Regions from separate parts of the Homo sapiens genome. Here region 1 is linked to region 2. The links come from fine-mapping of genetic effects on gene expression. A gene starts in region 2. The other region holds a variant in brackets. All regions are shown on one strand. Distances are between the middles of the regions.

What was found. PIP is the estimated chance that this variant, and not a neighbour inherited with it, causes the effect.
Region 1: its variant is the best candidate, but not a certain one, in a credible set for the expression of SIPA1L3 in skeletal muscle (GTEx, PIP 0.57).

Annotation. Positions count from the first base shown.
Region 1 is chr19:38,177,805-38,182,197 of GRCh38, forward strand. All of the region lies in intron 15 of SIPA1L3 (signal induced proliferation associated 1 like 3), which reads left to right. Among named protein-coding and RNA genes, the nearest start is that of SNORD152, 17 kb to the left of the region's middle. The variant C/T (reference allele first, on the strand shown) is at 2,310.
Region 2 is chr19:37,904,714-37,909,106 of GRCh38, forward strand. SIPA1L3 (signal induced proliferation associated 1 like 3) reads left to right here and starts at 2,495. Exons shown (of 22, transcript NM_015073.3): 1 at 2,495-2,645. It overlaps WDR87 (WD repeat domain 87), which reads right to left and starts at 1,881. Exons shown (of 6, transcript NM_001291088.2): 1 at 1,786-1,881. RefSeq lists a silencer at 2,607-2,846 and an enhancer at 3,147-3,206.

The DNA.
Region 1 (4,393 bases), 270 kb after region 2:
CACTTGAGGCCAGAAGTTCAAGACCAGCCTAGCCAACATGGTGAAACCCCGTCTCTACTAAAAATACAAAAATTATCCAGGCATGGTGGTGAATGCCTATAATCCCAGCTACTCAGGAGGCTGAGGCACAAGAATCGCTTGAACCCCGGAGGCGCAGAGGTTGCAGCGAGCCGAGATCACACCACTGCACTCCAGCCTGGCCATTTCCAACTTTTCCTGATTATAAACAGTACTACAGAGACCGTCCTCATACCTGCCTGTGTGTGCTTGTGCAGGCTTTTGGTGTGTGTGTGTGTGTGTGTGTGTGTGTGTGTGTGTGTGTGTGTGTGTGTGTTTTGTAGCTAAGACTATGGGACTATGGGCATGTGCTATTATTCCTGGCTATTTTTATTTTTTTGTGGAGGCAGGGTCTCTAGGGCTGGGCATGGTGCCTCACAACTGTAATCCTAGCACTTTGGGAGGCTGGGGTGGGAGGATCATTTGAGCCCCGGAGTTCAAGACCAGCCTGGGCAACATAGCAAGACCCCGTCCCTAGATAGAGTCTCTACAGCAACTCCTGGGCTCCAGCAGTTCTCCCACCTAAGCCTCCCAGAGTGCTGGGATTACAGCATGAGCCACCATGCCCGGCCTTGTGCAGGCTTTTCTATTGCATGGATTTCTGGGAGGCCAAATGTCTTGTTTTTGTTTTTGAGATGGAGTCTCACTCTGTCGCCCAGGCTGGAGTGCAATGGTGCGATCTCGGCTCACTGCAACCTCCGCCTCCCAGATTCATGCCATTCTCCTGCTTCAGCCTCCCGAGTAGCTGGGACTACAGGCGCCCACCACCATGCCCAGCTAATTTTTTTGTATTTTTAGTAGAGACAGGGTTTCACTGTGTTAGCCAGGATGGTCTCGATCTCCTGACCTCATGATCTGCCCGTCTTGGCCTCCCAAAGTGCCGGGATTACAGGCATGAGCTACCACACCCAGCCAGGCCAAATGTTAAGCTGAAGCCAGTCATCCTTCAGTTCTCAGTTCTGATGCTCTTGTCTCCTGGGGAAAGCATTCCTGACCATTCTTGGTGTTACATGCTTCAGTAGTTCCCTGGACATCTCCTCACCAATGCCTACTCTTTGCTCCATTGATAGATGTTGCTAAATTGTGGAAAGCATTACATAGTTGCTGTTTCAATCCAGTCGGACAATCCCTGCCTTTTGATGGGAGTGTTCAGACCATTCACGTTAAATGTAATTATTACTGCTAATGGTTGGATTTGCATTAGCCATTTTGCTATTGTTTCTGTATGTCTACTATCTTTCTTGCTCCTCTGTTCTTCCTTACTGCCTTATACTGTAGTAAATAAATACAGTTTCAGGCCGGATGTGGTGGCTTACACCTGTAAAATCCCAGCACTTTGGGAGGCCCAGGCGGGCAGATCACCTGAAGTCAGGAGTTCGAGACCAGCCTGGCCAGCATGGCAAAACCCTGTCTCTACTAAAAATACAAAAATTAGCTGGGCGTGGTGGCATGCACCCGTAATCCCAGCTACTCAGGAGGCTGAGGCAGGAGAATCGCTTGAGCCAGGGAGGCGGAGGTTGCAGTGGGCCAAGGTTGCACCACTGCCCTCCAGCCTAAGTGACAGAGTAAGACTCTGTCTCAAAAGTTAAAAATAAAAAATATATATAATTTAGTATAACATTTGGATTCTACTCTTGTGTAACTATCTTTTTAGTTATTATAATGTGCGTCTATCACTGCAATTCAGGTTAATACTAAATTCCAATAAAATATAAAACTTTTCTCCAATATTGTCCTATTTCCTTCTCCCTTTTTTGTGCTCTGTTTATCATAAACATCCATATGTGTTTTAACCCAGCAGTATAGTATTGTCATTATTGCCTTATACAGTCTTATGTCTTTAAGGAAGTTAAGAGAAGAAATAAGAAAGCATATACTTTTATAGAATCTTATTTTAAACCACAGTTTGCCATCTTGGGCTATTCATTTCTGTCTACTGACTCAGGTCATTGTCTAGAGTCATTTCTTTCAGCCTGAGGACTTTTTTTTTCTTTTTTTTTAGATGGAGTCTCACTCTGTCACCCAGGCTAGAGTGCAGTGGCGCAATCTCAGCTCACTGCAACCTCTGCCTCCTGGGTTTAAGCAGTTCTCCTGCCTCAGCCTCCTGAGTAGCTGAGATTACAGGTGCCCGCCACCACTCAGTTAATTTTTGTATTTTTAGTAGAGATGGGGTTTCACCATATTGGCCAGGCTGCGAGCTCTCCTGACAGGCGATCCACCTGCCTTGGCTTCTCAAAGTGCTGGGATTAACC[C/T]GAGGAGTTTTAAAATTATTTTGTATCAGGCAGGTGTGCTAGCAACAAATTCTCTCCATCTCTGTTTATATAGGAACATCTTTCTGTTGCCTTCATTTTTCAAGGATGGTTTTGCTGGGTATAGAATTCCTGGTTAACAGTTGTTTTCTTTCAGCACTTTAAAAGTTACATTTTATTTCATTCTTTTAAATGAGAAGTCAGCAATTAATTGTGTTTTTTTTTCTTTTTTATAGAAGTGGGGTCTCACTGTGTTTCCCAGGCTGGTTTCCAACTCCTGGGCTTGAGTGATCTTCCCGTCTTGGCCTCCCAAAGTGCTGGGATTATAGGCCTGCTAATTGTATTGATGCTCCTCTATATGCGATGCATCATCTTTTTCTTGATGCTTTCAAGATGTTTATCTTAGCATTTTTCTTTTTTTCTTTTCTTTTTTTTTTTTTTTTTGAGACAATTTCACTCTTTTTGCCCAGGTTGGAGTGCAACGGCATAATGGCGTGATCTCGGCTCACCGCGACCTCCGCCTCCCGGGTTCAAGCGATTCTCCTGCTTCAGCCTCCCAAGTAACTGGGATTATATGGATGCGCCACCACACCTGGCTAATTTTTTTGTATTTTAGTAGAGATGTAGTTTCTCCATGTTGGTCAGGCTGGTCTCGAACTTCTGAGCTCAGGTTATCTGCCCGCCTTGGCCTCCCAAAGTGCTGGAATTACAGGCGTGAGCCACCGCGCCCGGCCAGCATTTAACTTTCAACTCCTTTTCTAGGTGTGAATCTCTTTGTATTTTTCCTACTTGGTGTTTGTTGAGCTTCTTGGATGTGTAAGGTTTTCATCAGATTTAAGAAGTTTCCAACCATTATTTCTTCAAATATTTTTTCTGCCCCTTCTCTCCTCTCCTTCCAAAGTTCCTGATGCACATATGTTGGTACCCTTGATACCGTCCCAAAGGTTCTGCTCTGGAAGAACTTCTTCACTCACTGAGCTGGGAAGAGGTGGGGGGAGGACAAAATGCGACAAATTTCCTCTGTTCTTCCCTAAAGTTCAGTTTCTCAAGCATACATGCTTCTCAAATTGTTGTATGTGTTTGGTCAATTTTCGGAGTACTGAAATGGTCATTTGTGGTCAATGTTGTCATCTCTGGGGAGATGTGCCAGTCTTCTCATTTGACTGTAGTCAAAGTACCATCCTGTGATACTGCTAAATTGACCCTCAAAAGGGATTTATTAACTTATATATATAATCCTAGCTGGGTGTGCTGGCACATGCCGTGTTCCCAGGTACTTAGGAAGCTGAGGTGGGAGGATCGCCTGAGCCCAGGAGTTCGAGGCCAGCCTGGGCAACATAGCGAGACCTTGTCTCTTTAAATAAACAAAAAACCAATAATCCTCCCACCCATCCCCCACAAAATGCCCCCTTTTATATACACATGCGTATGTTTTTGCATAGAAAAAGGTTGACCGGGTGCGGTGGCTCACACCTGTAATCCCAACACTTTGGGAGGCTGAGGTAGGCGGATCATCTGAGGTTAGGAGTTTGAGACCAGCCTGGCCAACATGGTGAAACGCTGTCTCTACTAAAAATACAAAAAACTTAGCTGGGCGTGGTGGCACACATCTGTAATCCCAGCTACTGGGGAGGTTGAAGCAGGAGAATCGCTTGAACCCGAGAGACTGAGGATGGAGTGAGCTGAGATTGCACCACTGCACTCCAGCCTGGGCAACAGAGTGAGACTCTGTCTCAAAAAAAAAAAAAAAAAAGGTTAAGGGCCAGGCCCAGTGGCTCATCCTGTAATCCCAACACTTTGGGAGGCCAAGGCAGGCGGATTGCTTGAGCCCAGGAGCTCAAGACCAGCCTGGGAACATAGTGAAACCCCATCTCTACAAAAATTAGCTAAGCATAGTGGTGCATGCCTGTAGTCCCAGCTACTCGGAGGCTGAGGTGGGATGATCACTTGAGGCTGGGAGGTCGAGCCTGCAGTGAGCTGAGATCGCGCCACTGCATTCCAGCCTGGGTGACTGAGACCCTGTCTCAAAAAAAAAAAAAGAAAGGTTAGGAAGGAAATAGAGCAAACTGTAAGCCATAGTTCCCTGT
Region 2 (4,393 bases):
TAATATACCTTTAAGACTAATTCATATTAATACATATAACTCATTTCCCAACAGTTACTAGCTGCAGGGTATTCCACCGTGTGGCTGAACTATCATTTATTTATTCAAATTTCTATTAATGGACATTCGGTAGTTTCCAACCTTTTGCTACTGCAGCTAATGCCGCAAATGAGTATCTTTGTTAGTGCCTCATAACATTTTAATTTTATTTGATTTTAATTAACTTAAATTGTAGAACTGAGGCCAGGCATGGTGGCTCACGCCTGTAATCCCAGCATTTTGGGAGGCCGAGGCTGGCAGATCACGTCAGGAGATCGAGACCATCCTGGCTAACATGGTGAAACCCAGTCTCTACTAAAAATACAAAAATTAGCTGGGTGTGATGGCGCCTGCCTGTAATCCCAGCTACTTGGGAGGCTGAGGCAGGAGAGTCACTTGAACCAGGGAGTCAGAGGTTGCAGGGAGCCGAGGTGGCGCCACTGCACTCCAGCCTGGCGACAGAGTGGGACTCCGTCTCCAAAAAAAAAAAAAAAAAAAGTAGAACTGAAGCAATGAAAACATTTTTCCATTAACCTAACTTGGAATAATATTTTGGATATATTTGGGTTAAATAAAATATTAAAATTAATTTCATAGCTGGGTGAGATGGCTCACGCCTATAATCCCAGCACTTTGCGAGGCTGAGGTAGGAACATGTCTTGAGGCCAGGAGTTCAATACCAGCCTGGGCAACATAGCAAGAAAAAAAAAAGTAAATAATAATGATAAATAAAATGAATTTTACCTGTTTATGTCAAAATTAAAATTGCATATGTGGCTTGCATTACACATAAAAACACACACATATATAATTTTTTTTTTTTTTAAAGAGACAGGGTTCTGCTTTGTCGCCCAAGCTGGAGGGCAGTGGTGCAATCATGGTTCACTGCAGTCTCAAACTCCTGGGCTTAAGCGATACTCAGCCTCTTAAATAGCTGGGACTATGGCCACATGCCACCACGCCTAGCTAGTTTTTTAGTTTTAGTAGAGATAGGGTCTTGCTATGTTACCCGGCCAGTCTCCAACTCCTGGCCTTAAGTGATCCTCCTGCCTCGGTGGCTCAAAGTGCAGGGTATATTTCTCTTAGCTAGTATTGCTCTACATTGTTGTAGTCTGGTGGTGGCCTGATATCCCTACTGGACTGAAAACTCCCTGAAGGTAGGAGTCCAGTCTGTCTGGATTTCTCTTGTGTCTCCATAATCACCCAACCTGACATGGAATAGGTGGTTAATCCATTTTTGTTGAATGAGTGGAAAAATGTGCTCTCCCAGGAAGAAACATATGCTTCCCAGCTTCAAGTGTTAGTGAACATCTTCCTAGAAGGCAGGCTGAGGCGGAAAGGGTATTGACTCCGGCTTCTCCACCAGAGGACCTTGCAATTCCAGTCAATTCCCTCGGTAACTCTTATGGAGGAGTGGCAATATACCTTAAAAAAGGAGTGTGTGTTGCGGGGTATTCCGCTGCTTGGTTATGTCACCAGGTGGATTAAATTTGGACAAAATTTCCCAAGGTGTAGGTACTCTACAAACACTAGTTACCCTCAGGAATGTGCGATCAACAAAAGAATGCAAGATAACAAGGCCCCTAGGCAGCCCCTGGGTCTTGTGGCTCCCGTCGAAGGCAGAGCTCTGGAGCCGCCTACGCCGGGGACAGGCGACTACACCTGGGGCCCCTCACCCTCGGGCCTCCTGCACGTGGCAGGGAAGGCAGGGCGTCTCTATCTCAAAGCATTGGCTGCGCCTGTTACCTGCGACAGGATTCCCGACAAGGGACGGGTACGGCGTGTGCACTCAGGAGCTCCTAGAGCTAGGGGCAGCAACTAAGAAGCTACCTGGCGGATGTTGCGAGAGGACTCCGCCCACAGAACGGTTGGCCCCCAACCCCGCAGCCGGCGGACTTCCCGAGGCCAGGGGTCTGAACGCGCGTGCGCATGGGCGCGCGCCCGGCGCGAGAACGCGCGCGCGCTCTCGAAAGAAAAAAAAAAAAAATCCTCTCCGCGGGGTCCCGCGGCAATTTAGGCCGGGGTCTGCCGACGACCGCGCGTGCGCGGGCGTGCATCTACGCCCTCCTCCACCGCCCCCTCCGCTGGGGGTCTAGCGCACTGCTCCGCTTCCCCCGTTTCCCCCGGGCTAGCGTCCTAGGGGTAAGTGACTCGAGCCTGGCAGAGAGTGAGGGAGAGGTTCCGCCGAATGAAGGGAGGAGGTAGACGGGGCCAGGAGAAAGGAGAAACCGCCCCGGCGGGGCGAAGAGCGCGGCTCTCGAGCTGTAGTCTGCAGGAGACACACCTCCCTCCCTCACGCCCCTCGGGGCTGCGGAAGTGCTCTACAGACTGGAGCTGCACGAAGGCGACCAGCGGACTACCGTTCCTAGGAGGCAGCGCGGCGGTGCGCCTACGGCTCCCGGCAGCCCCCGCGCGCCATTCTCTTTTTGAGTTCGCGGCCGGCTAGGGCGAAACTACAGTTCCCAGGAGGACTCGCGCGAAGCGGCTTGGAAGTGGGCAGCCTGGAAGTCACTCGGGCCACCGGAGCTGGCGGCGTCTCCAGCGAGCGGCGCGGAGCTGGACGCCGCGATCGTGGGGCCCGCGAGGCGGGCAGCCGGGGCGTCCAGGTACGTGGCTCCGGGTGCAGGATCGGCCTCGCGCAAGGGTGGCGGGGAATCGGTGGCTGCCCGGACCCCGAGGGTCAGCGCGGGCGGACGGCCGGGTGTGGGTACTGGCCGTGGGGGGCGGCGGCGCCGGGACTCGCGCCCTCCGGACCCAGCCGGACTCGTGCCCGCATGGCTCAACTTTCCAGGCGTGCACCCCGGCGCTGTGGTGAAGAGCTTGGAGGCGGGGAGCGGTGGATTCGCGTCCCGGCTGTGCCACTCGGGAGCCGCGATCTGGGAAAACCGCGCCGAACCTCAATTTCCCCTGCAGTAAAACGGAGTAGGAGAGCATCTTGGCGGAGACTCTGTTGAGATAATATAATAAAACATTTGGCACATAGGAGGCACTTACTACGTATTTGGGTTATTGTTAGCTCTCCGAAAAATGAGGTGAAGATGTTATCGATTGCATAGGGTGAGGATTAGTTGAGCGTGTGCATGTAAAGAGGTGAGTCCTTAGTTAGCACCCAATGCAGGCTAGCTGCTGTTAACCGAGATTATTTTGTTAAGAGCGTTGGTTTGGAAGGCAGAGAGACCCCAGGTTCAAATTTGAACATTTACCAGCTGTGTGACTTTGGGCAACTGGCTTCACCTCTCTGTGCCTTGGTTTCCCTATCTATAAAATGGGGATTTAAATAGCAACCACTTCGTCGAGTTGTTTTCAGGATGCAGTGAGAATACCATGTGTAAAGTGCTTAGCACAGCAGCTGGCATATAACGCTCAGTAAATGGTACCATTTATTCAGCGTTTTCCTAGTGGCCCAGAGACCCTCTGAGGGTGGGGCTCTGGCCGTAGTATTGGTCACCCCCGAGGGCCAGATTCAGAACTGGTCCAGTTGACTTCCCTTCCTACTACCTCAGGTTCCTCATTTACAAAATGGGATAATAACAAGATCACTCTCAAAGGGTTGTAAGGATTTGCTGAGATTGTATTTCTAGTCCAGCGCCATCTCTCACTAAGTAGCAGCTCTTATGTATTATAATTGTTCTTCAATATTCTCCATCTGGCCCAGAGACTGCCTGACTGTGGGCTGTGACATGACAGCCCTGAGCTCCCCCACACATTTGCTCCCATCCTCAGTGTCCCATCTGTGGAATGGTAGTCATAGGACTTTTGTGCCAGGATTGTTTGGATGGTTCCAGGAGATAATTCATGTTTAGTGCTTTGCACAAGGCCCGGCACACAGTAAGTGCTTATTAAATGATTAAATGTATCTTGCTGTTTTTTTTTTTAATAGGCCCTTTTTGCTTCTGTTTGTACCTACATGGCAGAGTGAGCACAAAGTTAGTGTTTTTTTATCTTCCCCCTCCCTCCCAAATTTTACTTACCAAAGATTAAATTATGGAACACACTATAGTAGAAAGGCCTAAGAAGAAATGGGTCTGACCTGCCATCAGCAGTCCCCTGCTCACACACCCCTCCCCACAGAGCCAGTATGTTCACTCCAGTGCTTTAATTATTGTCCTGGTGCTGCCAGCTTTTGCCTTTGTGTCCCAAAGCCACTGAGTCCCCTGCACTCCAGCTCCAGATGTGGAGCCTGTGCTTCTTTGATGCTGTGGCTCAAAGAAGTGGCTGTTTCTTGGGCACCATAAACTCAGCATGTCCAACCTGAACTCCTTCTCCTCCTGGAACCAGTAGTCACCATCTTGGCAAATGTGCCAGCATTGACCTGGTTGCCTAAGCCAGAAACCTGGGAGTTGCTCTTCTTCCC